Linked DNA regions of Homo sapiens: region 2 is linked to region 1. Evidence: fine-mapped expression QTL. A gene starts in region 1. The other region holds a variant in brackets. All regions are shown on one strand. Distances are from middle to middle.

Region 1 (15,218 bases):
ATAAAACATTTCAAAGTCATGGACTGACCCGAAATCATATATGTTTATATCAGTATTAATATATGCACCTCCTAGGCCGGGCGCGGTGGCTCACGCCTGTAATCCCAGCACTTTGGGAGGCCAAGGTGGGCGGATCACGAGGTCAGGAGATCGAGACCATCCTGGCTAACACAGTAAAACCCTGTCTCTACTAAAAATACAAAACATTAGCTGGGTGTGGTGGCGGGTGCCTGTAGTCCCAGCTACTCGGGAGGCTGAGGCAGGAGAATGACGTGAACCTGGGAGGCGGAGCTTGCAGTGAGCTGAGATCGCACCACTGCACTCCAGCCTGGGAGACAGAGCGAGACTCCGTCTCAAAAAAAAAAAAAAAAATGCACCTTCTATTTTCTGTCAGCTGGCAGATCTAGGCAAGGGCAATTAATTTAGCCATATGAACTAATTTATATATAACTCTCTCTCTCTCTCTCTCTCGCTCTCTTTCTATATATGTGTGTGTGTGTGTGTGTGTGTGTGTGTGTGTATGTATTTTTTTTTTTTGAGACAGAGTCTCGTTCTGTTGCCAGTCTGGAGTGCAGTGGCACGATCTCAGCTTACTGCAAGCTCTGCCTCCCGGGTTCAAGCGATTCTCCTGCCTCAGCCTTCCGAGTAGCTGGGAGTACAGGTGTGTGCCATCAGGCCTGGCTAATTTTTTTCTATGTTTAGTAGAGACGGAGTTTCACTGTGTTAGCCAGGATGGTCTCTATCTCCTGACCTCGTGATTCGCCTGCCTCGGCCTCCCAAAGTGCTAGGATTATAGGTGTGAGCCACCACACCTGGCCGTAAATATGTATTTTTTGAGACAGAGTCTCACTCGGCTTACTGCAACCTCTGTCTCCCGGGTTCAAGTGATTCTCCTGCCTCAGTCTCCCGAGTAGCTGGGATTACAGGCATGCGCCACCATGCCCAGCTATTTTTTGTATTTTTAGTGGAGATGGGGTTTCACCATGTTGGCCAGGCTGGTCTCGAACTCCTGAACTCAAGAGATCTCCCGGCCTCAGCCTCCCAAAGTGCTGGGATTACAGGCATGAGCCACCGCGCCCGGCATATTTGCATTGTTGTGTAAGTACAGTCATCATCCATCTGCAGAACTCTTCTCATTTCCACAACTGAAACTCTACACCCATTAAGTGATAAACTCCGTTCCCTCCTCCCCCGAGACCCTAGAAACCACCATTCTACTCTGTCTCTGAATTTGACTGCTCTAAGTACCTCATATAAGTTGGACCATACAGCATTTGTCTTGTGACTGGCTTATTTCACTTAGCATAATGTCCTCGAGCTTCATTCATGTTGTCAGGTGTCAGAATGTCCTTCTTTTCAAGGCTGAATAACATTTTATTGTATGTATATATCGCATTTGCTTATCCATTCATTCATCAAGGAACATGAGTTGCTTCTACATTTTGGCCATTGTGAATAATGCTGCTCTGAACATGGGTGTATAAATATCTCTTTGTGTTCCTGCTTTCAATTCTTTTTGCTGTATACTCAGAAGTGAAATTCTACCTACTCCTAGGGTATATAAAAGTAAAAAAAAAAAAAAAAAGGGCTGTGTGTGGTGGCTCACTCCTGTAATCCCAGCACTTTGGGAGGCCAAGGCAGGTGGATTGCTCGAGCTTAGGAATTCGAGACCAGTCTGGGCAACATGGTGAAACCCCATCTCTACTAAAAATACAAAAATTAGCTGGGCATGGTGGCGTGAGCCTGTGGTCCCAGCTTCTTGGGAGGCTTAGTCACAAGAATCACTTGAACCCTGGAGGCGGAGGTTGTAGTGAGCAGAGATCACTGCCACTGCACTCCAGCCTGGGTGACACAGCCAGACATTATCTCAATAATAATAATAATAATAATAAAAGTTTTTAAAAAGTGGAATTCCTTTAGTTCGTATTAGTTTTCACTTTTATTTTTTGTGGAGATGGAGTCTCACCATGTTGCCCAGGCTGGTCTTGAACTGCTGGCCTCAAGCGATCCTCTGGCTTTAGCCTCCCAAAACGCTGAGATTACAGACATGAGCCACCGAGTCCCAACTAGTGTTTCTTTTTGAGTATGAACTGCCAACAACACAATTAAATCAGGAGAGCTGAGGGGGTCTCTAGCAAGTGTGCGCAGGGTGCGGCTGGTTTCCCAGCAGAGGTAAGCAACAAGGGGCTTTCATCGCCCAGGTCATTCAGGAGGGGCAGAGTGTTGCAGCAATGGCTAGTGATGTGTGAAGGGGAAGCAATAATGTTTCATAGGCTACGCCTTGGCTCCTGGATCTAATCGAAAACTAAAGTAAATAACAGGCCTCCAAAGAGTCCCAGGTAATTGAGGCAATAGTCCTGATACTTGTTTAGACATATCATCAACAAAAAGGGAAGCGGGCATCTAGAATCCTGGAAACACATCTTTTTGTAGACAGTTCTTATACCAGGATTTGTGCTTGATTGTGTCATAATTATGGTTCTTTTAAACACAAAAAGTCTATAATCATTAAAATACACTTATGAGAACATATTTTACTTTTGCAGAATTAGCATAGAAAGATAAGTTTTCTTTTTGATTTGTCAGTTTTTTAAAAATCTGTTTAATAAGCCAAAGAGCACTTATAAGAATTTTGAATTAATTCACATGTGAAGCATTCTAGATAAACCTAATTACTTCTCTTGCCCTTCCTTTTATAAGGTGAAGGAGAAATCTTTAGATTACCTAATAACCATTTAATTTAATTTAATTTAATTTGTTTTTGAGACAGTCTTGCTCTGTCTCCCAGGCTGGGGTGCAGTGGCGTAATTATGGCTCACTGCAGCCTTGACCTCTGGGGCCCAAACAATGCTCCCACCTTAGTCTCCCAGAGTGCTGAGATTACAGGCGTGAGCCACCATGCCCAGCCCTAATAATCATTTTAATAAGCCCCAAAATAGTTTATATAGAAAAGACATCTAACCAATTTTATTCTGAATTTGGGAAAATCAGAATTACAAAGAGTTGTTAGAGGAGTCAAAATATTTCATAAATACCTAAGCACAAGAAATATTTATAATTACTGCAGAATCATAAAGCAATAAACAACGTTTATTAGAAACTTTTTTCAAAAATAAGTACTTACTGGGCGTAGTGGCCCACGCCTGTAATCTTAGCACTTTAGGAGGCTGAGGCCAGCAGATAGATGACTTGAGCCCAGGAGTTGGAGACCAGCCTGGCCAACATGACGAAACCTCATCTCTACTAAAAGTACCAAAATTAGCTGGGCGTGGTGGCACGTGCCTGTAGTCCCAGCTACTGGGGAGGCTGGGGCAGGAGACTTTCTTGAACCCAGGAGGCGTAGGTTGCATTGAGCCCAGATCGCGCCACTGCACTCCAGCCCGGGTGACGGAGTGAGACCGTCTCAAAAAAAAAAAAAGGTAAAGAAGGACTCTTTTAAAAAATGGTTTAAGTGGCCGGGCGCGGTGGCTCACGCTTATGATCCCAGCACTTTGGGAGGCTGAGGCGGGCGGATCGCTTGAGGTCAGGAGTTGGAGACCAGCCTGGCCAACATAGCAAAACCCCATCTCTACTAAAAATACAGACATTAGCTGGTCATGGTGGCACACGCCTGTAATCCCAGCTACTCGGGAGGCTGAGGCAGGAGAATCGCTTGAACCCGGGAGGCAGAGTTTGCATTGAGCCGAGATCATGCCACTGCACTCCATACTGGGCAACAGAGTGAAACTCTGTCTCAAACAACAACAACAACAACAACAAAAAAAGATTTAAGAATATGTCGAAAAGCACAGAGAGATAGATTATTTTTGATGACAAAAGAAACCTCCACTGAACTAGGAAAACAATAATTTAGTTATTTCATAGTAAAAGGACACAAATTCTAATTTTACATCTTTTGTACATTATTCATGTAATAATTTCCAGTAGAGAATTTATTAATATAAGTATATGTATGTAGTTAGTTATACATGGAAATATAAATCTACAGATACAGGCCTGGCATGGTGACTCACACCTGTAATCCCAGCATTTTGGGAGGCTGAGGCAGGCAGATCACTTGAGGTCAGGAGTTTCAGACCAGCCTGGGCAACATGGCAAAAACCCCATCTCTACAAAAAATACAAAAATTAGCCAGATGTGGTGGCGTGCACCTGTAGTCCCAGCTGCTCGGGAGGCTGAGGCATGAAAATCACTTGAACACAAGGGGAGTAGGTTGCAGTGAGCTGAGATGGCACCACAGCACTCCAGCCTTGGTGACAAAGCGAGACTCTGTCTCGAAGTCAGTCAATCTACACATAGTCAATAAATTAAAAAATTTTCCACAGTTTCAAAATACAATTAACTTAGTATGATAAATAAAATTATGTATGTATTAATTATAATATTACCATTAATAAGCTGTAATAACTTTTTATTTTTATTTCTTAATTTTTGTAGTCTTTTGTCCTCGCCCCTATAACTTTTCAATAAACAAATAAAACTCATATCCATTTTCATGTATACATATTTGTATTTATCTGTAATTCTTTTTACCTAGGATAATCAACCATGCATATCAAATGTTTTTAATCTTTAATTCCTTTTTTTGAGACAGAGTCTTGCTCTGTCGCCCGGCTGGAGTGCAGTGGCGCGATCTCGGCTAACTACAACCTCCGCCTCCCGGGCTCAAGCGATTCTCCTGCTTCAGCCTCCCGAGTAGCTGGGATTACAGGCGCCTGCTGCCATGCCAGCTAATTTTTGTATTTTTAGTAGAGACGAGGTTTCACCATGTTGGCCAGGATAGTCTGGATCTCTTGACCTCGTGATCCACCTGCCTCAGCCTCCCAAAGTGGTGGGATTACAGGCGTGAGCCACCATGCCCGGCCCCTTAATCTTTAATTTTTATAAGTACATGGTGTGTATATTTATGGGATACATGAGATTTTTTTTTTTTGAGACGGAGTCTCTCCCTGTTGCTCAGGAGTGCAGTGGTGCGATCTCTGCTCACTGCAACCCATACCTCCCAGGTTCCAGCGATTCTCCTGAGTAGCTGAGATTACAGGCATGCACCACCACGCCCTGCTAATTTTTATATTTTTAGTAGAGATGGAGTTTCGCCATGTTGGCTAGGCTGGTCTCGAACTTCTGGCCTCAAGTAATCCGCCTGCCTCGGCCTCCCAAAGTGCTGGGATTACAGCACCACACCCGGCCTCACTTCATTCCTTTTTATGGCTGAATAATATTCAATGATATGGAGAAACCTCATTTTACTTATCTGTTCATCTATTGATGAACATTTGGGTTGTTTCCACTTTTTGCTATTATAAATAATGCTGCTTTGAACATTTGTGTACAAATTTTTGCATGGACTCTTATATACATTTAAAAATATGGCCAGGTGTGGTGGCTCATGCCTGTAATCCCAGCACTTTGGGAGGCCAAGGTGGGTGGATCACTTGAACCCAGGAGTTCAAGAGCAGCCTGGGCAACATGGTGAAACCCATCTCTACAGAAAAATGCAAAAATTAGCTGGGCATGGTGGGGAACACCTGTAGTCCCAGCAAGTCGGAAGGCTGAGGTGGGAGGATTGCTTGAGCCTGGGAAGTGGAGGTTGCAGTGAGCCGTGATTTCACCACTGCATTCCAGCCTGGGTGACAGAGTGAGACCCTGTCTCAAAACACAAATAAACAAACCAAAACAAATTTTATTACACATTTTATTACAGAAGGAGTAGGATTAAAAATAAAACAAAATAAAAAGTACATTTAATTGATTTTCTTTAAAATATTCAGCTGGGGTTTAAATTGAAATTACATAGAAATTATATATTAGTTTGGATAGACTTGACATCTTTATAAAATGAAATTGCCTCATCCAGGAACATGTATTGTGTCTTCATTTATTCAGATGATCTTTTTTTGTTTTTGAGACGGAGTCTTGCTCTGTCGCCCAGGCTGGAATGCAGTGGCACCATCTCAGCTCACTGCAACCTCTGCCTCTCAGGTTCAAGCAGTTCTCCTCCTCCTCAGCCTCCTGAGTAGCTGAGATTACAGGCGCGTGTCACCATGCCTGGCTAATTTTTGTATTTTCAGTAGAGATGGGGTTTCACCATGTTGGCCAGGCTGGTCTCAAACTCCTGACCTCAGGTGATACACCCACTTCGGCCTCCCAAAGTGCTGGGATTACGAGCATGAGCCACCGCGCCTGGCCTATTGTAATTTTTTTTTTTCAGACAACAGAAAAGTATAAAGGAGAAAGTAACAAACCATTAGTTACCTCCCCAGAGATAACCATTGATGACATTTCCTCCCCAACATTTTTCCCCCTATGGATACACATACATTTTTTCAAGATCTTGTTTCCTTTGATATGTCATTTTAGTGGCTTGAACTTATTTCTGGAACAATATATGGGTAAAGTCTATGCATATATGTATCTATGTATATATCTATCTATGGAAAACAAGTAGATATAGACAGTAAAATAAAGACAGAGACAAGACAGCGGTTGGAGAGATGAAAGGAGAGAAAGTCATAGACAAGGAGAGACATATGGGGAGAGGAAGACACAGAGAGAGCTGTGGGCACATAAGGGCAGAAAGATAAACACAGAGAGCCATGGAGAGATGAAAGTATTGGGCTGGGGCCAGGCATGGTGGCTCAACGCCTGTAATCCCAGCACTTTGGGAGGCCGAGGAGGGCCGATTGCTTGAGCTCAGAAGTTGGAGACCAACCTGGCAACATGACGAAACCCCATCTCTACAAAAATACAAAAATTAGCCAGGCGTGGTGGTGGGCACCTGTAGTCCCAGCTACTTGGCAGGCTGAGGCATGAGAATTGGTTGAACCCTGGAGGTGGAGATTGCAGTGAGCTGAGATCCGGCCACTGTCCTCCAGCCTGGAGGACACAGCGAGACACTGTCAGAAAAAAAAAAACACAAAGAGACAAGGAGAGGATGGAAAGGAGCATTTATGGAGCTCCTACTGAATGTCATTCTAAACCTCCAAGGTCACTTTGAGGGAGGCTGTCAGTAGTAACCCCTTTACGCCGCTGAGAGCCTGAGCCTTAGAATGGCCAACTGAGCTGTCCATGGTCACATCACCTAGATTGAACCCATCTCCCTGGCGCGGGCCGGGCCCACTGCGGGTGATCCATTAACTATTTATCTAATGAACAAACTAAAGTCCATCTCCTCCCCCAGGAAGAGAGATGAGGACCAGACCCCCATTCCACTCCACTGAGTCAATTTTTCTTGCCTGTTTTCCTGTCTACTAAGGTAACAGTAAGGTCGGTTGCCCCAGCAACTGCCCTCCGACTGCCATGGCAACCGCCAGCTCTCCACCTTGCCCTTTGGGCATCTCCATGGCGACGGGAGGTCTGGTGGGGCTGCCAGCTCCCCAGGCTGCGCCTGCGTCGGTCGGGTGGGTGGGGTGGGGGCGGGGGGGGGGGGGCCTGGTTCCGGGCGTGCGCAGCCGCAGAGCGCCGCAGCCTCGCCAGCTCGCCCCGGCACTGCGCACTTGCCAGCCAGTCCGCCCGTCCGGAGCCCGGCTCGCTGGGGCAGCATGGCGGGGTCGCCGCTGCTCTGGGGGCCGCGGGCCGGGGGCGTCGGCCTTTTGGTGCTGCTGCTGCTCGGCCTGTTTCGGCCGCCCCCCGCGCTCTGCGCGCGGCCGGTAAAGGTGCGACCCCAGTCCGGCGAGGGGTGGGGGTTGGGGGAGGATGCCACCGGCGAGGGTTGGGGTTGGGGCTGCGCCGCCTCACCCCCGCCCGAGCCGGCTCCCGGGACGTGCGGAGAGATCGACGAGGGTGGCCCGGGCTCCGGCCGCCGGTCCGCGCCCAGGCCACGCCGGCACACCTGAGACCTGACTTGGTCTCTGCCTGTGCGGGTGGCGTTGTCCGGGGCGCCGCCGGTAACCGTGCCCTGCCCACCTCTCCGTGCCCGGTGCCTGTGACGCTGTCCACGGCACTAAGGCGCTTTAAGAAAGGGCGCGCGCGCATCAGTGTGTGTGCGTGTGATGTGAGGAGAGCGGTGTGGAGGTGTCGTGTCCTTGAAAGTGTGTGTTCTTTGGTTTGAGCGCTTCCAAGTGTCCTAGAAAGGTGCCGTGGTGCGTCTGGGTGTGTAGTGTGTGTGATACCGGGATACTTCTGTGCGCGATTCTTTTGTGCGTCCGATTGTTTTCTCAGTGACACCGTGTGGATATTTGTGAATCCTTATTATGTGTGTTGGCTTGGCCTATGGGCGTGTCTCTCTCTCTCTCTCTCTGTCTCTCTCTCTCTGTGTGTGTGTGTGTGTGTGTGTGTGTGTGTGTGTGTGTGTGATTTCGTTTGTGTTTGAGAGGGAATGGTCTTCGCATCTCCGTGTGCACATTCCATAGTGGTTCTGTTGGACCAAGTGCCTGGGATTTCGTTTGCGTGTTCCTGAGACTGTTTCTCTCCGTTTCTTTGTGGAGCTGTGTCATCCTGAGGAGAGGAGCCATGATGTCTCTCTGCTGCATTGTGTCTTTAAGGATGGTGCATGTCCTTGCACCTGGGTGGCTTGGCGATTGTAACTGCAGGAGCAGCTGCGGATGTGAACGTGTGCAGGTCCTTGCATGTGGCTGTGGCAGTGTTGGGCTGTATATGTGACATCTCCAGGCCTGTCAGTCCTCATGAGTGTGTGTGAGGCTGTGATTGCTGGTGAGTGTGATACCCCGGGGTGACTGAGGAGTGGTGGGCGCCAGCAAGGGCACTTGGAGAGGCATCCTCCTCTAGCTCTTCAATACTGTCTGCATCAAAGATGGGAATTAAAAAAAACTGTTACCTTATATCCGTGTAACAATGTGTTTAATATATATGTACAATGTAAAGAATGATGACAAAATAACTCTCTCGTGTAGCAGTCACTCAGCTTAATAAATAGAGCCTGACCAAGAGTTAGAAGCCCCTGCGTGCCCCTCGCCATGGCAGCCCCTGTCCCCACACAGTCCTTATTCTGTATTTTCTGTCCATTGATCCCTTACTTTTGTTTGTAGCTTATCACATATGTGTAGCTCTCAAAAAAAATCCATTGTTTAGTTTTTCCTGCTTTTGAACATCATTGAAACGGAATCATACTGGGTGACTGGTTCCTCGTAGTCACTAGGGGTCACTAGGAAGTCCTCAGGGTGTCTAGTAGTCTCAGGCAGTCTGCAGTGAAATTCTGGAACTTGACGTTTTTTTTTCCCTTGGCTCTATTCTGGTCACGAGATTCATCCAAGTTGATGCATGTGGCTGTAATTCATTTATTTTTATTGCTGCATAATATTACATCCTATGAGGACATCATGATTTATATATGTATTCTCAATTTGTCAGTGGACATTGGACTGTTTCCAGGCTTTTCTTTCTCCCCCGCCCTTTTATGCTATTACGAACAGTGCTGCTGTCATCTTTCACGAACTTGTGACCAGTAGCGTATGTGCCAAAGCTGCTCTGGGGAGTGACATCCCAGGAGTGGGTCATAGGATATGTGCATCTTTTTAGATATTGTCAAACCGCTCTGCAAAATTACTTTGCCAGTTTAATTCTCACCAGCATAGTATGAGAGTTCCCATTTTTCTGCATTCATATCAACACTTCATATTATCAGACTTTTTGATTTGGGTCAATCTTTTGGTTATATTATGCATAGTATCTCCCTGGCATTTTAATTTGCTTTCCCCTGATTACTAATGAGGTTTTTAATTTTATTTTATGTTTGTTAGAGACAGGGTCTTCCTCTGTCATGCACGCTGGAGTGCAGTGGTGCGATCTGGGCTCACTGCAACCTTGAGCTTCTGGACTCAGGTGATCCTCCCACCTCATCTTCCCAAGTAGCTGGGACTATGGGCTTGTGCCCCGCTCATTTTTTTTGGTTTTATTTTTTGTAGAGACAGGGTCTCGCCATTTTGACCAGGCTGGTCTCAAACTCCTGGCCTCAAGCGATCTTCCTGCCTTGGCCTCCCAAAGTGCTGGGATTACAGGCATGAACCACTACACGTGGCCCAATTTTTCATATGTTTAGTAATCATTTTTGTGAAATAGGCGATCATGTATTTTTTCTATTTCTGTATGAGTTTGTTTTTCTCTTACTACTTTTTAGGAATTCTCTGTATCTTCTGTGTACTACTCTTTCATTGACTATTTGTGTTGCAGGCATCACTCCTTTTAAACATATTTATATGTGGCCTGTATGTTTCTTTTCCAAACCTTCACAGTCATTTTTATGATCTTTTATTCCTTGCTCAGATTATTGGTACCCTCTTTTATTTCTTTAAACTTGTGGAAATTGTTTGAAAACTGCTTGAACTGAAAATTTGTCATTGGGTAATTTATTCTACAGATGAACTTGTACACATGCCAAATGATATATGAACAAGTTTATTCATATAGTTCCTATTGTCCACAATATTAAATATGGAAAAATCTATAACTGTCATATCTACCATCACTACTCTTATGAAGAAACTCGGTCTCCAGGAGTGGGGGTGGGGAGGGAGGAATTATGAGAGTCACCAAGGGATCACTGGCGCGCTGTGGGGTGGGGGTGGGGGGTGTCTGGGGATCTTTGGTGGTCTTAAGTGCGTCTGGAGATATTTGGTGGTTTCCAGTGGCCTTAGGGGTGTCCGGGTATATTTGGATGGTCACGGTGCTTTTGGTGGCATCTGGGATGTTTGAGGCCTACGAAGCTTCCCGGGCTGGGGGTCCCTGTCTCGACGGACGCTGACAAACTCTTTTCCCCCACCTCATTTTCCCGCAGGAGCCCCGCGGCCTAAGCGCAGCGTCTCCGCCCTTGGCTGAGACTGGCGCTCCTCGCCGCTTCCGGCGGTCAGTGCCCCGAGGTGAGGCGGCGGGGGCGGTGCAGGAGCTGGCGCGGGCGCTGGCGCATCTGCTGGAGGCCGAACGTCAGGAGCGGGCGCGGGCCGAGGCGCAGGAGGCTGAGGATCAGCAGGCGCGCGTCCTGGCGCAGCTGCTGCGCGTCTGGGGCGCCCCCCGCAACTCTGATCCGGCTCTGGGCCTGGACGACGACCCCGACGCGCCTGCAGCGCAGCTCGCTCGCGCTCTGCTCCGCGCCCGCCTTGACCCTGCCGCCCTAGCAGCCCAGCTTGTCCCCGCGCCCGTCCCCGCCGCGGCGCTCCGACCCCGGCCCCCGGTCTACGACGACGGCCCCGCGGGCCCGGATGCTGAGGAGGCAGGCGACGAGACACCCGACGTGGACCCCGAGCTGTTGAGGTGCCCGGCAGGGGGTGGGGAGGGGTCGGGCGCCTGCGTCCGGAGAGGACGAGGGCGAGGAACTGGGAAGCCTGCTTACCCCGTGGAGTGCGAACCCCTAAGTCCTGGGGCCTAAGAGGGAGTGAGGTCCTGGATCCAGGGAGTCCAGGCAAGGATGCCTGGCTGACTCAGTGGGGGAAGTGGACCCCAGGTCCTGGGAAGGGGAGAGGGAGGCGGGGAAGCCACAGTTTTCTGGGATGAAAGGCGATGACGGCTGTCTACTGAAAGCAGTGGGCTGAGGACGCCTTCTTGGGGAGGGAACCGTGTCCCCAGGCAGTATGTGGTTGTGGATCCTGCGTTCTGGGCCCCGAGCGTGGGGCGGGGGAACGCCCCACCGCGGACACCGCCTCACTGCTTTGCGCTCGGCCCTGCAGGTACTTGCTGGGACGGATTCTTGCGGGAAGCGCGGACTCCGAGGGGGTGGCAGCCCCGCGCCGCCTCCGCCGTGCCGCCGACCACGATGTGGGCTCTGAGCTGCCCCCTGAGGGCGTGCTGGGGGCGCTGCTGCGTGTGAAACGCCTAGAGACCCCGGCGCCCCAGGTGCCTGCACGCCGCCTCTTGCCACCCTGAGCACTGCCCGGATCCCGTGCACCCTGGGACCCAGAAGTGCCCCCGCCATCCCGCCACCAGGACTGCTCCCCGCCAGCACGTCCAGAGCAACTTACCCCGGCCAGCCAGCCCTCTCACCCGAGGATCCCTACCCCCTGGCCCCACAATAAACATGATCTGAAGCAGCTCTGTGCTTGTCTGTGTGAGTGGCAGTTTCTAGGGGCTGGTGGTTCCCCGCGGTGGTGGTTGCCCTTAGACCAGGAGAGAGGAGACTCTACCCTGGGTCCTGCACTTTAGAGCAATCACCTGCTCAGTCTATGTCTCTCCTAGGGGTGGAGGGGAAGACATCCACATGGACAATCGCGGATCTTGTGTCCCCCTTTTAGGCCTCACTTGGGTATGGGGATCCCAGGCTTTGAGGCCACTTTCAGGGCCTGCACCATCATCTTCCAAGGGACCATCCTCCTGAGGGCCAAGGGGTGGCTTTGTGGGGCACGTGAGTAGAGCTTGAGGTGCTGGCTGGGATGTCGCAGGCACACATGAACACCTCCTGATGTGGGGAAGAGAAAAGGAGAGAGCGGAGAGAAAGGGAGAGGGCACTGAGGGTCGGGAGGCCCCAGTACAGGCACACTCTTTGGCAGACAGGCACATTCTGGCAGGGAACTCTGAGAAGGCTGAGAAATTGGAGCCTGGGTATCCAGGTCACTAATAAAGTGTATTTGCCAAAGTAGGATAGGGTGTATTTCATTTACTTTGTAAAGCTTGATTCGTAATGTCTGAACGTTTACATATTTAGTTATGTAGTGTAGAGGCCTACCTGTACTCTTGCTCCAGGCCCTGGATATACTGAGGGTTGCTGTGGTGGCAGCTGATTTGTGGCCATGGTCTTTGCACTGGCTAGTCCCTCTGCCTCTGGATATCTTCAGGTTTTTGTCCAGATGTCACCTACTCTCAAGAAGGCTTTCCTGGACCTGTCACCCTATTCCTTCACCTGCCTTTAACACGTAGCCTTTATCACTATCTAGCCTGATGCCATATCTATAAGGGCAAGGATTTTTAAGTGTCTTGTTTGCCTCTACCTCCCTTATATATAAAGCGGAGCCTAGCACACAGTGGGCTCCCCCTGAATTTCTTGAATGAAAGAATTCTCACAACTCAAGTAACATTCTACCCAGTCTCACTCCCACCCACACAACACTCGGCATGGAGGCAGCTTTGAAACCCAAAACACCATTTATTTAATTTTGCACAAAATCTTTCAACTTGACATAACAAAAGCAACATTAGGCACTCCCATGTTACCAAAAAGCCCCTCACCAAGTGAAAACAAGAGAGATGTCCATCTTTCCCTAGTATACCTGATGTGTCCCTCAAAGCTAGTTGCCTCAGGGGTCTCATGTCAAATGAACAATCACCCTGGCCTGGGGAAAGGTCTACATTTCTTGGCCAAGACCTTCAGGCCACAGAGCAGCCACAGTGGCAGGTGGCCTTCTGGTGCCGGGTCTTCTCCCTACAGGACCTTGCCATGGGCTCCTTCGCCATGGCCTCCTGGACCCTCTGGATCTCATGGACCAGCAGGGAAAAGGCCTCCTCCACGCCTTGCCGTGTTTTGGCCGAGGTCTCCACGAAGTGGGCCCCCCAGCTGTGTGCGAGGGCTGCAGCAGCGGCATGAGCATCTCCAGCAGTGGTCACAAGGTCACACTTGTTGCCCACGAGGACAAGGGGCTGGGCGGGGTGAGGGCCCCAGGTGGCCCATATCTGCTGCAGCTGGATCAGAGACGAGGGGTCATCGAGAGCGAAGACGCCCAGCACACCATCACAGACAGCCAGGCACTGGTCACGCAGGGCCCTATGGATGGCCTGCCCTGCTGTGTCCAGCACATTCAGAATGCAGTCCCCACTGTCCAGGGTCAACTCCTTCCAGTAGGAATCCTGGATGGTGGGGTCGTGGTCCTCCACGAAGCACTGGTGGTTCAGCTGGATGGTCAGCGCACTCTTGCCCACGCCACTGGCGCCCACCACCACAGCCTTGTACTCAGGCAGCTGCCTGCCAACATCCCTGCGGCGTGCCTGAGCCCGGTGGGTTTCCCCCTGGAAGGAAGGGCTCCATGTGGCCAGGCCCAGGTCGAAGGTGCCAGGCTTTGTTGGCAGCTCCATGACCCCAGCAGGCAGCTCAGGGAAGAGACGTGGGCAGCAGGCTCTGCAAGTGGGAAGAGAAGAAGCAAGACAACAGGGGATACGTTAGGGGAGACCATTTGAGGGCAAGGAGACAGTGGGGTGTCATTATTTCAACATTTATTGAATGCCTATTGTGTGCTGATCACCTTCCAATTTGCATGCTATATATATATGATTTATGTTGTTTTCTCCCTGTCCCACGTCCCCCCATCTCTCCTTCCCTCCTCACGCGAATCAACAACTGTGAAGGCTGGATTTCCCAAACAGCTTTATTGAGATGTAATTTACATCCCATCAAGTTCAGCCAGCTAGTGTCCAATTTAACGGGTTTTAGCATATTCACGAAGTTGTGCAACTATCACCATAAGTAAATTTTAGAACATTTTCCTCACCCAGAAAAGAATCCCCATGCCCATTAGCAGTTCCTCCCCATGACAGAGGGAGGGCAGGATTTTGCCGGTTTTGGTCACCATTGAACCCTAGCCCAGCACAGTGCCTGCCAGACAGTAGGGACCCAACATTCCCACCCCCAGAAGGTTTATGTTCTAAAAGGCAGAGGCAGATAATATAATAAACCAAATAAATATGTAAATCACGTGGTCTGTTAGCCATTATCATTAGAATGTAGTCTTTATTAATTATTCAACATACATTTATTGGGAACCTACTGTGTGGCAAGGACATGGAGTTGGGCAATAAATAGACAACAAACTGTAGCCCTCATGAAGGTTATATTCTGGTCGGGGTGAGAGACAACAAACTAGGTTAAAAAGGGGGCGGGGCACAATGGCTCACGCCTGTAATCCCAGCACTTTGGAGGCCGAGTCGGGTGGATCACCTGAGGTCAGGAGTTCGAGACCAGCCTGCCCAACATTGCGAAACCCTGTCTCTAATAAAAACACAAAAAAATTAGCCAGGAGTGGTGGTGGACGCCTGTAATCCCAGCTACTCGGGAGGCTGAGGCAGAAGAATCGCTTGAACCCGGGAGGCGGAGGTTGCAGTGAGCTGAGATCACACCACTTGCACTCCAGCCTGGGAGATAAGAGCAAAACTCCGTCTCAAAAAAAAAAAAAAAAAAAAAGTGAACTATATGTCAGTAGCGGGTGATAAGCATGCAGAAGGTGCTCAGTTCATGCCAGGCTTTTAAATTATAATTTAATCTCCATTCATTAATTCAAGAATCTTCCTTCGTGCCAGGCATTGTGATATGGCAGTTAACAAAACAGACCCCAGTCCCTGCCCTTGTG
Region 2 (15,218 bases), 370 kb before region 1:
CACACCCCTCAAGAATGCAAGTGAGTGCCCAAGACCCTGCCGTCCACGGAGCTCAGGACCCCTCCCAAAGACTTTAGAGCCTCTAGATCTCACCAAGGCCCAAAGATATAGTCCCAGAATTGTCCCAAGAACTGCAGAGGCCCTCAGATCTCACCAAGTCTTCGGCGGCCCCCCGATACCTCCCCCAAATCCCTCTCCGCATTCCCCAAGTGACCTACATTCCACTCCAGACCCATTAGCAATCACCATTCCCACCCTGAGCCCCCAGCTTCCATCTTGAGACTCCTGTAGAGGGTAGTAGCTAAAAGCCTGGGCTGTGAAGTCAGACATTACGGTTCAAATCCACTTCATGAGACTTAGGTACATTTCTTAAACTTACTCAGTTCCATTTCACTCAACTGAAAAACGGGGCTAAACAGTGCCTATCTCACAAGGCTGTTGTGAAGAGTAAATGAGCTACTACATGGAAAATGTACTTTGTACAATGTAAAGTTGCTACACAGAAAACCTAGCTTGGGCCGGGCGCTGTGGCTCACGCCTGTAATCCCAGCACTTTGGGAGGCCAAGGCAGGCAGATCACCTGAGGTTGGGAGTTCGACACCAGCCTAGTCAGCATGGTGAAACCCCGTCTCCACTAAAAATACAAAAATTAGCTGGGCTTGGTGTTGTGCACCTGTAATCCCAGCTACTCGGGAAGATGAGGAGGGAGAATCGCTTGAACCCGGGAGGCGGAGGTTGCAGTGAGCCAAGATCATGCCACTGCACTCCAGCCTGGGCAGAGTCTTTTTCAAGACTCCGTCTCAAAAAAAAAGAGAGAATAGAAAAGAAGAGAAGAAAAAGAAAATCTAGTTCAGTGCCTGGCATATAGTTACTGCTAATAAACGTTGGCTATTATTCGTTTTACTTTTTCCTGGTGGGCGATGATGAGGATGATAATGGTGATGATGAAATGATGCCAACTATGTGCCAGACACTAGTCTCATTTATTGACTTGTGACATTTATTAATCCTTGTGACAAGCCAGGAAATCGATTCTGTTATTATCCTTATTTCTTAGAATGGGGAAACAGAAGCACAGAAAGGGTAAATGCGCAAGGTCACCCAGCCAGGACATGGAGGGACAGGATTTGAACCTAGAACATATTGCTCCACCACTATGTCCTGCTGCCTCCATGCTGGAGACCCCAGACCCTTTCCCCAGTTCCTCACCCCTCCTCACCCATCTAACCTGTTTGCACATCCACAGGGGCTCCTTCCTGGTATACCCAGATGGAGACGTGTCACGGCCCCTGGTCCGGGAGCGGCTCTGGGTCAACAGTGATTTCAACTTTGACAATGTCCTTTCAGCCATGATGGCCCTGTTCACTGTCTCCACCTTTGAAGGCTGGCCTGCGTGAGGGACAGGGCCCTGGGTTTATCAGGGGATGAGGCAGGGGTCTCTGCAGGATTGGGTTGGGATCTCCTGGGAATGGGTGGGAGTGTACCTTGGGGATGTGACGAAGGTCTCTCGAGACTGGATAGGGTTTTCTGGAGAGTGGTGGGTGTATCAGAGGACTGTAGAGGTGGAGTTCCCAGAAGCTGGGTGGGGGTTCTTTGGGGACTTGAGTGAGGGGTCTCCAGGAATTGGACAGCGGTTTCTAAGGGACTAGGTAGCTAGATAGAAGCCTGGAAAGGATTGGAGATGGTTTGGGGGGACAGAGTGGAGGTCTGAGGGGACTGGGATTGGTCTCTGAAGAGATGAAGCAGGGATTCAGCGATTTCTAGAAAGCTGTGCAGGTCTTTGGGATACTCATTGTGGGGCTCTGTGGGGAGATGGAGTGGGGATTCAAGTTGATGGGACAGGGATAAATTTACAGATCGTTGGGGGCTTGTGTGGAAGTTCTGGGGAGGCGCATGGGGGTCTCCAAGTGGTTGGAGAAGGGGATTTGAAGGTCTGTGGAAACTTAGGGGATTTCTGGGTCTTTGAGGTTCTGAATGGAGATTCTCTGGAGGACTCTATGGGGGTTTCTGAGGGCATGGGACAGAGGATTTGGACTCTTTGAGGGCCTGGTAGAGGTCTCTTAGAGTATGTATGGAGGTCCCAGGTGGTTAGGTCAGGAGATTTAGGGGTCTTTGGGGTGCCAGGCAGGAAACTCTGGGGTGTCTGTGATAAGTAGACTGGGGGCAGGTCTGAGGGGGCTGGGATATCCCCTCACCTGCCCCCACCTCTACCCCCCCTCTGGCTCCCACAGACTGCTATACAAGGCCATCGATGCATATGCAGAGGACCACGGCCCCATCTATAATTACCGTGTGGAGATCTCAGTGTTCTTCATTGTCTACATCATCATCATTGCGTTCTTCATGATGAACATCTTCGTGGGCTTCGTCATCATCACTTTCCGTGCCCAGGGCGAGCAGGAGTACCAAAACTGTGAGCTGGACAAGAACCAGGTGACCTCTGACCCCTGACCCCCTATGGATGGTCACCAACCCTTCCCTCCTTGCCTCAGGACCCCACTGCTCACTCATGCCCTGCCCTGGTATGCAGCGTCAATGTGTGGAATATGCCCTCAAGGCCCAGCCACTCCGCCGTTACATCCCCAAGAACCCGCATCAGTATCGTGTGTGGGCCACTGTGAACTCTGCTGCCTTTGAGTACCTGATGTTCCTGCTCATCCTGCTCAACACAGTTGCCCTAGCCATGCAGGTCTGAGATCCCTGCCTGACCCCCGCCAGACTCCTGACCCTATTATCTCCACATAATCCCTTGGGAACCATTGGGAACATTTAAGGCTGCAAATAACAAACCCCCTGCCAACTAACAGCAACTTAAGCTATAAAGACATTTGCCACATTTCTTTAAGTCTATGGCCAGTACTTGTAAGTTGCATTCTGATTTCGGAGATGTAAGAATGTGGAAAAAAAAAAAAAAGTAGCCAGTGGCCATTGTAAGTTGCCATTTGTTATAAAATGCGCCCCAATTTCAGAGATTCTAAAATGTAAAAAGATGTGCCTCCTGGAGTCAATGAACTGTGGTAATTACCTCATGTATTGAGAAGTGCAGAGGTAGGCTGTTTGTTCATTGTTCATCCGGGACCCATGCTCTATCTTTCTGCTTCACCATTCTTAGCAAGTTGGCATTCATTTTCATGATTGTTGTTTCATGATCACAGCTCCAGGCATCAAAACCACACTCAAGGCAGGGAGAGCTGCACCTGGGGCCTCTCCTTATTTGATCCTTTCATCGGAAAGCAAAATTTTTTTTACACAAGCTGCTAACCAACAGCAGATTTATGTTTATGTCTCACTAGTCAACCTGGCCTTGCCTAACTACAAGAAAAGCTAG[T/G]AATCAAGAACTAAACTTTCCAGTATCCATAATGGGAGGCAGACAGTGCAAGAGGTTTGACCAATACACAGTGCAATCAAGTCCCCAGACTCGTCTCAGCCCAGGCCAGGGAATATTTGGTTGGGTGTGGCGGCATCTCTGCCTCAGGCTCCATCTCAACCTGATTTTCTCCTGCAGCACTATGAGCAGACTGCTCCCTTCAACTATGCCATGGACATCCTCAACATGGTCTTCACTGGCCTCTTCACTATTGAGATGGTGCTCAAAATCATCGCCTTCAAGCCCAAGGTGGCCCCCCTTCTCTAGCCCCACCCACCAGTGGATGAATTCCTTGGGAGTGGAGCTCATTGCAGAGCTCTGGGGTTGGCGATGCGGGCAGCAGCCAGGGAGTGTGAGTCTAGGGAGTGAGAGGGACTCAGGTGCAGGCCCATCGTGTGATCCAAGCGAAGCCCTGCCCCCCTCCGGCGCCCCCTACTACTACTGGCCCCCTACCCTGGCTTGCGAGCTTTGAGAAGACAGGGCACTGCTTTTCTCCTACTTGCAGCATTACTTCACTGATGCCTGGAACACGTTTGACGCTCTTATTGTGGTGGGCAGCATAGTGGATATTGCCGTCACTGAAGTCAATGTGAGAACTGGCCTTTCCACTAATCCACTCTCGCCCTATACACCTTCCCTCACCTCTATCCCGGGGTTCCCTTTCACGTGGGTGGGTGGCTCCCACGCACATCCTCCCTACTCCTGGAGACTCAGTCCTCATTCTAGCTCTATCTCTTCTGAGTCCCTGTTGGGTTCAGCAAAAGTCCCCCTCTACTGGCTTTCTCATTCCATTTTGTAACCTATCTACTGGCTCCACCATCTCCTGAAATGCCTCTCCTGTTATTTCTGTTATCTCTTTCATTGCCTCTACATCCCCCATCCATTGGCTCCGTCATGTTCACTGGCTCCTGCTTTGGCTCCATCTTTTCTGATGACTTCATTGGCTTCATTTCTCCACCAACTTCATCATCTCTGACACTGGCTCTTTCATGGCTCTGTCATCACCATTGACTATATCATTGGCTCCATCACCTCCATTGGGTACTACATGGTTCTGTCACCTCAACTGACAACGCTGCTGGTTCCCTATCTCCATCACTGGCTTCTCCATTGGCTTCTCCATCGGTTCTCTCATCTCCATCATCTCTATGACACCACTGGTTCCATCATTTCCTCTATTGGCTCCAATGTCTCTGATCCATCACCTCCTTTACTCTCTCCTCTCCCTTCCATTCCCATTACCCACTTTTTCCTAATCCTAATCCACTACCATATAAACTTTCCCATTGTCCCCTGTGTAATGACCCCACCATCACCCCCTATATCTGCTCCATCATATCTCACCTTGTTCATTTGGGCCTATGATGTCATCATCTCCTGTATCACCTTTTTCTTGGCCATATCTCCCTCCAGAATGGTGGCCACCTTGGCGAGGTAGCCCACCCTAATAACAGGGACTCTCTGCTTCTTTTCCCATGTCCCTCTGTCCCTCCATCCCTCCAGATTACCCTAGGGCCTGAGTGATTTGGGTACTGGGAGGGCCAAAGCATGAGATAGGGAGATAGCTGGAGTAAATGCAAACTGAGCATCCCTACTGCACCCCTCACCCCAGAGCTCTGAGGACAGCTCCCGCATTTCCATTACCTTCTTTCGCCTCTTCCGAGTTATGCGGCTGGTCAAGCTTCTCAGTAAGGGTGAAGGGATCCGCACATTGCTCTGGACATTCATCAAGTCCTTCCAGGTAATCCCCTACCCCATCCCTTTGACCATACCTCGCCCCCATTTCACACTTCTCAGCCTGCCCCTTTACCACCCTCAGAACTACATCTCCCAACATGCCATACCCATTTCCAAATTATTATTCCAATTTTCTCTTTTTTCTGGGCTCTCAGTTTCCAACACACCTCTGGTCTCACTGACCTTACTCTATCTACTTAACACTATGTTCACATTTGAGAGACACCACAGTCCTTGGCACTTTGGAGATGGACTGCATCTCCCAGTAGGCCCAGGCCAGGGAAAGCAGTGCATTCTGGGGCTTATAGTTCTTTGCCTGAGCCTGTGCATCTATTCTCTGCCCCCCTCCCCCATCCCTATAGGCCTTGCCCTATGTGGCTCTTCTCATCGCAATGATATTCTTCATCTATGCCGTCATTGGCATGCAGGCAAGTGGGGACCCTAGGAAGCATCCCTTAAGCACTCCTCTGCTGGCAGGGGATGGGTTAAGAATAGCCCCAAAGTAGGGGTGGCAGGTAGACAGACAAGCTGGACGGCCCTGGGTCAATCTACACATCTGTGAAATGAGATCAGCAGTGATGCCCTGTTTGTCAGGGTTATGAGGCTCCTTTAGGTATTAGGAGGTGTGAAATGGGTGGGGCATGGGTTCACCCCACTGACACAGCCTTGATGTGTCCACAGATGTTCGGCAAGGTGGCTCTTCAGGATGGCACACAGATAAACCGAAACAACAACTTCCAGACCTTTCCACAGGCTGTGCTGCTTCTGTTCAGGTGACATCTACTCACTCCCCTGCCACCTTATGCCCGTGGGTGCCCACCCACCCTCTCTGAGCCCCAGACTGCTTGAGCTATGGGAATAATATGGCAGCATGGGGCTCCATACAGCCCGAGATGTTTCCTGGCTATGATGTGAGGAGTCTGTTAGAGTATTCTAGCCTCAGCCATTTTCTTTCTGACTGTAAGACGCCTCCCCTTCTCAGGTCTCAGTGCCTCATCTGTAAGATGCAAACATGACTGTCGTCAACATGGCCACACTGGCTGTTAAAATATTGAAATGTTATCTGTGCCAGATGTAGCCCCTGGTGAGAAGTAGGTCATCTCCTCATTCCCCAGTCCTCCCCCAACTCCATTTACCATGACTTCATAGCCTCCCCTTCAGGATGCTACCCCTGTGTGACTCCCACCAGGTGTGCCACTGGTGAGGCATGGCAGGAGATAATGCTTGCCAGCCTTCCCGGAAATCGGTGTGATCCTGAGTCTGACTTCGGCCCTGGTGAAGAGTTTACCTGTGGTAGCAATTTTGCCATCGCCTATTTCATCAGCTTCTTCATGCTCTGTGCCTTCCTGGTGAGAACCATTTCCTCACAACCACCACCACCGTCACGGGGGCTGGCCCTGAGGGGCTCAGGGATGTGACGTGGGCAGCCCAGATCTTCATAGTGGGTGAGAGGGCTGGTCTGATGACAAGATCAACCCAGAGACTCATGACCATATAAGCCCGCCCCAGCCTCCCACCATCCGTCCATGACAGTGTTCTGCCCTTCACCTAACTGCTCCCTTGCTCACTGGCCCACAGATCATAAATCTCTTTGTGGCTGTGATCATGGACAACTTTGATTATCTCACCAGAGATTGGTCCATCCTGGGCCCCCATCACCTTGATGAATTCAAGAGGATCTGGTCTGAATATGACCCTGGGGCCAAGTATGCCCTCTATACCCTTACCTAGAATCCAGGGGACAATGTATTGCCCTACACAGTCCCCTAGCCCCCAAACCTCCGACTGCTGCATCTCATTACCCAGTCAATAGATGCCCCAAAGTTTCCACTGCCCCATCCTCTGCCCTCTCTGACTGCCCTCCAGTTCTTCCCTGGCAAGCTCTGGGGTATTGGTAGGAGGAGGTAGTGATGAGCTGGTGGGGCCTTGAGAAAGGGCTAGTGGGGGCATCGCCAATCCAGTGGTACCTCCCCAACTCCTCCAGGGGCCGCATCAAACACTTGGATGTGGTTGCCCTGCTGAGACGTATCCAGCCCCCTCTGGGATTTGGGAAGCTGTGCCCACACCGAGTGGCCTGCAAGGTCTGTGCACCTGCCCACCCCCAGGCTCCTGAGAGAACTGTCTATCACATGGCAAGGGTGGGAAGGGATCTGCCTTGGGTGGGGAGGGGTGTTTGATCGCATCCTCAGAGGTTTCTGCCCCTTGACATTCGTTCCTGCATACCCGGCATTTTCCCAGAGTGGGTTTCATGTCTCTCGTGTTTGCAGAGACTTGTGGCAATGAACATGCCCCTCAACTCAGATGGGACGGTGACATTCAACGCCACACTCTTTGCCCTGGTCCGGACATCCCTGAAGATCAAAACAGAAGGTGTAGGGGAGGGGCAGGAGTGGGATCGTTCCTGGGGAGGGTGCAAGGAGCAAACTCATTGAATCATGGGCCCCACTCCTAGCTCTGAACCCCAGAATGGGTGACAGGATTCTCCAGGCCTGTTTCCCCCCACCCCGTCCAATGGGGGCGGTGTGCATCTGCGGTAGCAGCTTGTGAAGTTCCCCCCACCCAACAGTGAGGGGGCAGCTGTGGAGGTTCTTCCTATTGGCTCATGCCCCACATCCTCCTCCAACGCAGGGAACCTGGAGCAAGCCAACCAGGAGCTGCGGATTGTCATCAAAAAGATCTGGAAGCGGATGAAACAGAAGCTGCTAGATGAGGTCATCCCCCCACCAGACGGTGAGCTATCCCCGCCCCAGTTCCCCGCGCCAGCCCCTGAATGGCAGATGATCGCTCTCCACCACAAAACCAGCGCTGGGCAGAGGGCGAGGGGAAGTCCATGCTGGTGGGTAGAGAGGCGGCGAGGTGGGCTGGGTCAGAGGGCCCCTGTGTGATCTTGCCTTCTCTCCCTTGCCCCTAGAGGAGGAGGTCACCGTGGGCAAATTCTACGCCACATTTCTGATCCAGGACTATTTCCGCAAATTCCGGCGGAGGAAAGAAAAAGGGCTACTAGGCAACGACGCCGCCCCTAGCACCTCTTCCGCCCTTCAGGTCTTCGGGGCAGGGCCTAGTGTGGATGGGCACGTGTGGCAGTGCTGTGGCTGAGGCTGACCCCCATTTTGATCTTGTGAAACCCATGTCACAGATAAGGAAACTGAGGCCCCAGGCCTCACGGAGGGCCAGGGTGGCTGAAGGACTCCTTCCCCCACCCTACCCGCCTGCAGGGGAAACAGAGGGAAAGTTCAGACCCTGAGCTGCCTGCTTACCTATTTCTCCACCCCCACAGGCTGGTCTGCGGAGCCTGCAGGACTTGGGTCCTGAGATGCGGCAGGCCCTCACCTGTGACACAGAGGAGGAGGAAGAAGAGGGGCAGGAGGGAGTGGAGGAGGAAGATGAAAAGGACTTGGAAACTAACAAAGTGGGGACAAGTTTTCACTCTCCCAGGAACTTGATTGTAAAATACTTCGTCAATCCCCTGAGTGATTTTGACACTGCTTCTGGGAAGAAGCTCCCCCAGAGAAGCCCCCTCTGCAATAGAAAAATATTTATTTGAGGCTGGGAGTGGTGGCTCATGCCTATAATCCCAGCACTTTGGGAGTCCAGGGTGGAAGGATCGCTTGAACCCTAGGGTTCAAGACCAGTCCTGGCAAAATAGTGAAACCGCCTCTCTACAAAAAAATTTAAAAATTAGCTAGGAGTGGTGGTGCAAGCCTGTAGTCCCAGCTACTTGGGAGGCTGAGGCAGGAGGATTGCTTGAACCTGGGAGGATGAGGCCACAGTGAGCTGTGATCATGCCACTGCACTCCCGCCTGGTGACAGGACAAGACCCTATCGCAAATATTTATTTATTTATTTACGTATTTATTTATTTGACATTTACCATTGCTGTTGGAGGGCAAGGCCCACATTCATGGACCTGTGGGGGAGACATGTTATATGACCAAATGACTTAGCCACAAAGTGCATGCAACACTCAGTCCTGTGACTCTCCACAGGCCACGATGGTCTCCCAGCCCTCAGCTCGCCGGGGCTCCGGGATTTCTGTGTCTCTGCCTGTCGGGGACAGACTTCCAGATTCACTCTCCTTTGGGCCCAGTGATGATGACAGGGGGACTCCCACCTCCAGTCAGCCCAGTGTGCCCCAGGCTGGATCCAACACCCACAGGTATTATCAAGTGTCTGGAAGTAGATTGTGAGGGAAGGCAAGGACTAGACACTGGATAGAGGCAATTCAGGAGGCAGGAAGTTGAGGGGGGTGGGAGGGAGGGCCTAGAGGCCTTCAAGCAGAAATTTGGGAAGAATGGAGGTGTTTCAAGGGCTCAGGTAAGAATAGAGGGTGATAAGAGATTCATATGAGAAAGGCAATACAAAGGTTTAATGCAAAAAGCACATTGTGTGAAACCAAGAGTTTCAGTTCACATTCTGCCTCTGCCATTTGCTAAGTGACCTTGAGCTAATCACTTTTTTTTTTTTTTTTTTTTTGAGACAGAGTCCCGCTCTGTCTCCCAGGCTGGAGTGCAGTGGCACAATTTCGGCTCACTGCAACCTCTGCCTCCCGGGTTCAAGCGATTCTCCTGCCTGAGCCTCCCGAGTAGCTGGGATTACAGGCGTGCGCCATAATGCCAGGCTAATTTTTTTTTTTTTTTTCAGTAGAGACGAGGTTTTGCCATGTTGGCCAGGCTGGTTTCGAACTCCTGACCTCAGGTGATCTGCCCACCTCAGCCTCCCAAAGTGCTGGGATTACAAGCTTGAGCCACCGTGCCCTGCCTAGTCACTTCGTTTCTATGAGCCTCAGTTTCCTCACCTGTTTAAGGGGGATGACAAAGCACTTACTTCACAGGGATAAAGAAAGGATGAAATGAGGTAATGCATGTCAAACACTTAGCTGCTAGACAATACATAAGCAGATTAAAGAAAAATTTTAAAAAAAAATTTCAGAGTGTCTAGCTTGCCTAGGCACGGTGGCTCACACTCGTAATCCCAGCACTTTGGGAGGCCAAGGTGGGAGGATCGCTTGAGCCCAGGAGTACAAGACCAGCCTGCACAACATAATGAGACCCCGTCCATACAAAAAATAAAAAAATAGCCGAGCATGGTGGCACATGCCTGTAGTCCCAGCTACTTGGGAGGCTGAGGTGGGAGGATAAATTGAGCCTGGGAGGTTGAGGCTGCAGTGAGCTGAGATCATGCCGCTGCACTCCAGCCTAAGTGACAGAGTAAGACCTCGTCTCAGAAAATAAAAAATAGAAATAAAAAAATAAAGTGCCTAGCTTTTACAGGCTCCCCCCACTCCTAATACATGCCCAGTTTTGTGTTCAAGGTGTCTCTCTACAGGTCAACTTTGATTTTTTTGAAACTTTCAGTCCTAATTAGATGAACATCTATTAAACAAAAGCCCATGGTCACTTTAAAATGGTTAATGGTTAATTTTATGTGACTTGTCCTCAACAAAAAAATCCAAAAGCCCAGTGTTTCTGTAAGGGTTGGGGCATGGGATGAGAGGAACCAGGGGTCCAGGGCCACATATTGAGGGATCTGGTCTGCCTAACGTGCCTCCCTTTCCCCAGGAGAGGCTCTGGGGCTCTCATTTTCACCATCCCAGAAGAAGGAAATTCTCAGCCCAAGGGAACCAAAGGGCAAAACAAGCAAGATGAGGATGAGGAAGTCCCTGATCGGTACACTGGCCATGCCACATGGGATGAACCCATGAGCTGGGGTGGAGGAGGGGTGGGAACTGGGTCGGGGAGGACTGTTTGTGCCCCATCTCCCAGGCCCAGGTCCAGGCCCAGACCCAAGTTCACCCCTGGCCCTCCCACCCACACAGGCTTTCCTACCTAGATGAGCAGGCAGGGACTCCCCCGTGCTCAGTCCTTTTGCCACCTCACAGAGCTCAGAGATACATGGATGGGCACCTGGTACCACGCCGCCGTCTGCTGCCCCCCACACCTGCAGGTGAGAGCAGGGATGGATCCAAGGGGCCCCCACGGGCCTGCAGGACAGAGATCTGGGGAAGCACTGACATTGCTATTTGCCCCTGGTGCCCCACCCACCCCCAGGTCGGAAGCCCTCCTTCACCATCCAGTGTCTGCAGCGCCAGGGCAGTTGTGAGGATTTACCCATCCCAGGCACCTATCATCGTGGGCGAAATTCAGGGCCCAATAGGGCTCAGGTGAGGCTGTGGAGGTGGTGCTGGGGTCTGGGGTCTGGAGAGATGGGGGCAGCCTAGGCTGAATTTCTCAAACACAGCACATATCAGGCCCTTTTTTTTTTTTTTTTTTTTTTTTTTTGAGACAGAGTTTTGCTCTGCTGCCCAGGCTGGAGTACAGTGTTGAGATCTTGGCTCACTGTAACCCCTGCCTCCCGGGTCCAAGCAATTCTCCTGCCTCAGCCTCCCAAGTAGCTGGGATTACAGGTGCTCACCACCATGCCTGGCTAATTTTTGCATTTTTAGTAGAGATGGGGTTTCACCATGTTGGCCGGGCTGGTCTCAAACCCCTGACCTCAGGTGATCCGCCTGTCTCAGCCTCCCAAAGTGCTGGGATTACAGGCATAAGCCACCGCGCCTGGCCTCAGAGCCTTCTGAAGAACAGGACACATATGAATGAATGCACACAATGCTCACTGTACTTGTGAGGAAACTGAGGTCCTGAGAGGTTTACCCCAGATCATGCAGCTAGTAAGTGGCAGAGCTGACATTTAAACCCAGGCCTCCTGCACTCTTACATAAATAAACTCAAGCCTGACTTATACCCATTCAATTTCACTCCAGTTGTATACTGAGGGAAAGAAGTAGGCACAGCGGTGAGTCCTAGACCCTCATACCCTACTCATCCATCCCTGCCCCTCTGATGTTTATTCTGGCTCAGGGTTCCTGGGCAACACCACCTCAGCGGGGTCGGCTCCTGTATGCCCCGCTGTTGTTGGTGGAAGAGGGCGCAGCGGGGGAGGGGTACCTCGGCAGATCCAGTGGCCCACTGCGCACCTTCACCTGTCTGCACGTGCCTGGAACCCACTCGGACCCCAGCCATGGGAAGAGGGGCAGTGCCGACAGCTTGGTGGAGGCTGTGAGTCCAGAGGGCATATAGACAAGACGGATGGGGGAGAAGGGGAGGAGGTGGGTACTGGAGGAGGACGGAAAGGAGTCCCCAGGTCCTGTGTTGTGCATGTAGATATCCCTTTGCCCTACGACCTCTGCTCACCCCTGTCCCCCACTGACTTCCCTACATGCCCTCATGGGCACGTCATTTATCCACACTGAACCTTCTGTGCACACTGTGCCGTCCGTCAACACTGATCCCACCTGTGCCCCCAGGTGCTTATCTCAGAGGGTCTGGGCCTCTTTGCTCGAGACCCACGTTTCGTGGCCCTGGCCAAGCAGGAGATTGCAGATGCGTGTCGCCTGACGCTGGATGAGATGGACAATGCTGCCAGTGACCTGCTGGCACAGGGAACCAGCTCTCTCTATAGCGACGAGGAGTCCATCCTCTCCCGCTTCGATGAGGAGGACTTGGGAGACGAGATGGCCTGCGTCCACGCCCTCTGAATTCCCACCCCTCCCCAACTGCTCAATAAACCTCCTGCCCTCCCCTCCCCAGCAGGAGGCAGGCATGGACCACATCCCTGGATTTTGTTGTCTTTGCACTGGGGGTCTGGGGCTGCCCAGGGGCCCCCATCCATCCATCCCCTGTTCTAGCCCTGAGCCACTGCCCACACACGGGTATTTCCAGAAACCAGGACAGCCAGGCCTGATTATTCAGCGTCAGGGAAGGAGGGAGGAGGAGGAGGAGGAGGAAGAGACAGCAGCCAAAAAAAGCTGGAGGCAGAGTGGAGGAGGGGGGAGGGGGAGGGCACTGGACAGAGATGGAGGAAAGGGGAGAGAGCGGGTGTGAGGGGTGCTTGGACCCAGAGAGGAAGAGAGGCAGAGATTTCACCAGGGCTCAGCCAGGTCAAACTAGGAAGGGTAGACGGATGAGAAGGAAAGGACAAGGAAACCCAGAGAAGAATCCTGCCAGGGGAGAGGCCTGGAGGTTGGAATCGGCCTGGTATGTGATGCATCTTAGGCAGAGGGGTCCTCTGACGGCAACAGGAATTTTAGGGTGGCTAAATTGAGATCGCTCTGTCTCCCATCTCCCACTTTCTGCCTGAGAAAGAAAAGAAAACCTAAATCCATCAGTAGACAACATAGGTGACAGCAAAGGTCAGGGCTCCCAGCCCTGGGGAACCCACTCAGGGCCCACCTGGCTTTCCTGAGACCACCTAACAGTAACCTACTCTTATCCCACACAGATCCCAGAGGTCCTCTCTGCTTCTTGCCCCAGCTTTACTCTTCACCCAGCCTTTGGGGTTACATTCGCTCACTGAAGGCTTATCAGGCATTTACTATGTGCCAGGCACCGGCTCTGGGTTTCTCTCGGGGCAAACTGAACTGGTTGAAACACGGGACAGGTCTCATCCAAAGTGGGAGTCAGCCCCACTCCAGAGGAATTGAAGGTAGCATTGGGAGTGGTGCAGGATGAGACCACCAGTCGGGGAGGAACTCTTCCCAGCTCCCAGAACAGGGGTGTCTCATTTGTATAATCTGCGCCAATCAAGCCAGGACTGAAATTTGAGGGAAGCCAGAATTGGAGACTAGGACTGAGAAGATTGAGTTACATTAGGCCTTGAAACAAAGGCTTAAAGTGGTTGGGCTGGAGTTAGGTGAGAACAGCAAGTCATGGGCAGGGCACAGAGAGTGAAGGGAGACTGTTGAGGGATGAGGTGGGAGAAGCCACTGAGGCCAGATCAGGTGGAACCTTGAATGCCAGGTCCCAAACTCTGGGATTTTTCCTATAAGCAGTGGGGAGCCATGGGAGGGATTTGAGTAGGGTAGTGACATAGTTAACATTGCATTTTAAATAGATGTTCTGACGGCTGTGCTGAAAACAGAAGGGAGGGGGAAGAGACTGGAGATGCTAAAATTGGCAGGAATGATGGTCGCCTTAGCCAGAGGAGGTGGCAGAGGAGATGGTGAGAAGTGAGTGGATTCCAGAGATGTGTAGGAGGTAAAATGAACCATTTATTGGGCCCTGTGCTAACTGCATTACAGTGATCATCTCGTTGAATCAGTGCAACAACCTTATAGGTATCATTTTAAACCATCTTACCTGTCCAGGGTCAAACAAGAAGTATCAGAGGTGGCATTCAAATTCAAGCAGTTTGATGCCAAGATCCATGCTTTTAACCCCTCCTGTGTACTGCTTCCCCAATAAGGCAACAACAGGGAAGTATCCATTACATATATGTGTGAATTTTCATGTTTAAAAAAACAGGTATTGAGCTGGGCATGGTGACTCATGCCTGTCATCTCAGCACTTTGGGAGGCTGAGGCGGGAGGATCACTTGAGCCCAGGAGTTCAAGACCAGCCTGGGCAACAAAGTGAGACCTCGTCTCTACAAAAATATTTAAAAATTAGCTGGGCGTGGTGTCTCACGCCTGTGGTCCCAGCTACATAGGAGGCTGAGGCAGGAGGATCGCTTGAGCCCAGGAGGTCGAGGCTGCAGTGAGCCATATTCATGCCACTGGACTCCAGCCTGGGCAACACAGGGAAACCCTGTCTCAAAAAAAAGATATTCATTCAGATGGTTCAAAATTCAAAAGGTAGGCCAGATGCAGTGGCTCACACCTGTAATCCCAGCACTTTGGGAGGCCAAGTGGACAGTGGATCACTTAAGGTCAGGAGTTCACAACCAGCCTGGCCAACATGGCAAAACCCCATCTCTACTAAAAAAAAAAAAAAAAAAAAAAAAAATAGCCGGACGTGGTGGTTTGTGCTTGTAATCCCAGCTACTCAGGAGGCAGAGGTAGGAGAATCGTTTGAACCCAGGAGGCGGAGGTTGCAGTGAACTGAGATTGCACCACTGCACTCCAGCCTGGGCAACAGAGTGAGACTCTGTCTCAAAAACAAAACAAAACAAAACTACTGAGATGCTGTTTTTCATCTTTCAGGGTGGTGAGTATCAAAAAGTTTGATAATGTTCCATACTGGCAGGTTGGCCAGAAACAAGCGTTCTCATAAATCGCTTGTGGAAGTTTCATTGGTATAACCTGTGTAGAAGGCAACTGGGCAAAATCTAGAAAAATAAA

Alleles and levels. Positions count from the first base shown, and alleles are read on the strand shown. Sizes are in standard deviations (SD) of each study's normalised expression.
For the expression in breast of the gene that starts at base 7,464 in region 1, T is the low allele of the variant in region 2 and G is the other (moderate effect, 0.67 SD a copy in GTEx).

Evidence for each region. PIP is the estimated chance that this variant, and not a neighbour inherited with it, causes the effect.
Region 2: its variant is the best candidate, but not a certain one, in a credible set for the expression of PCSK1N in breast (GTEx, PIP 0.54).

What each region holds. Positions count from the first base shown.
Region 1 is chrX:48,827,856-48,843,073 of GRCh38, reverse strand. PCSK1N (proprotein convertase subtilisin/kexin type 1 inhibitor) reads left to right here and starts at 7,464. Exons shown (of 3, transcript NM_013271.5): 1 at 7,464-7,655; 2 at 10,733-11,205; 3 at 11,619-11,978. The coding sequence starts at 7,542. The coding sequence ends at 11,814. ERAS (ES cell expressed Ras) reads right to left here. Exons shown (of 2, transcript NM_181532.3): 2 at 13,205-13,993. The coding sequence starts at 13,950. The coding sequence ends at 13,249. RefSeq lists an enhancer at 11,642-12,142.
Region 2 is chrX:49,202,557-49,217,774 of GRCh38, reverse strand. It overlaps CACNA1F (calcium voltage-gated channel subunit alpha1 F), which reads left to right. Exons shown (of 48, transcript NM_001256789.3): 26 at 1-20; 27 at 1,247-1,393; 28 at 2,232-2,433; 29 at 2,531-2,689; 30 at 3,506-3,616; 31 at 3,873-3,956; 32 at 4,781-4,801; 33 at 4,980-5,108; 34 at 5,467-5,532; 35 at 5,786-5,877; 36 at 6,294-6,453; 37 at 6,683-6,810; 38 at 7,089-7,185; 39 at 7,372-7,474; 9 more. The coding sequence ends at 12,638. Among named protein-coding and RNA genes, the nearest start is that of SYP, 10 kb to the right of the region's middle. RefSeq lists an enhancer at 7,304-8,503. The variant T/G (reference allele first, on the strand shown) is at 3,329.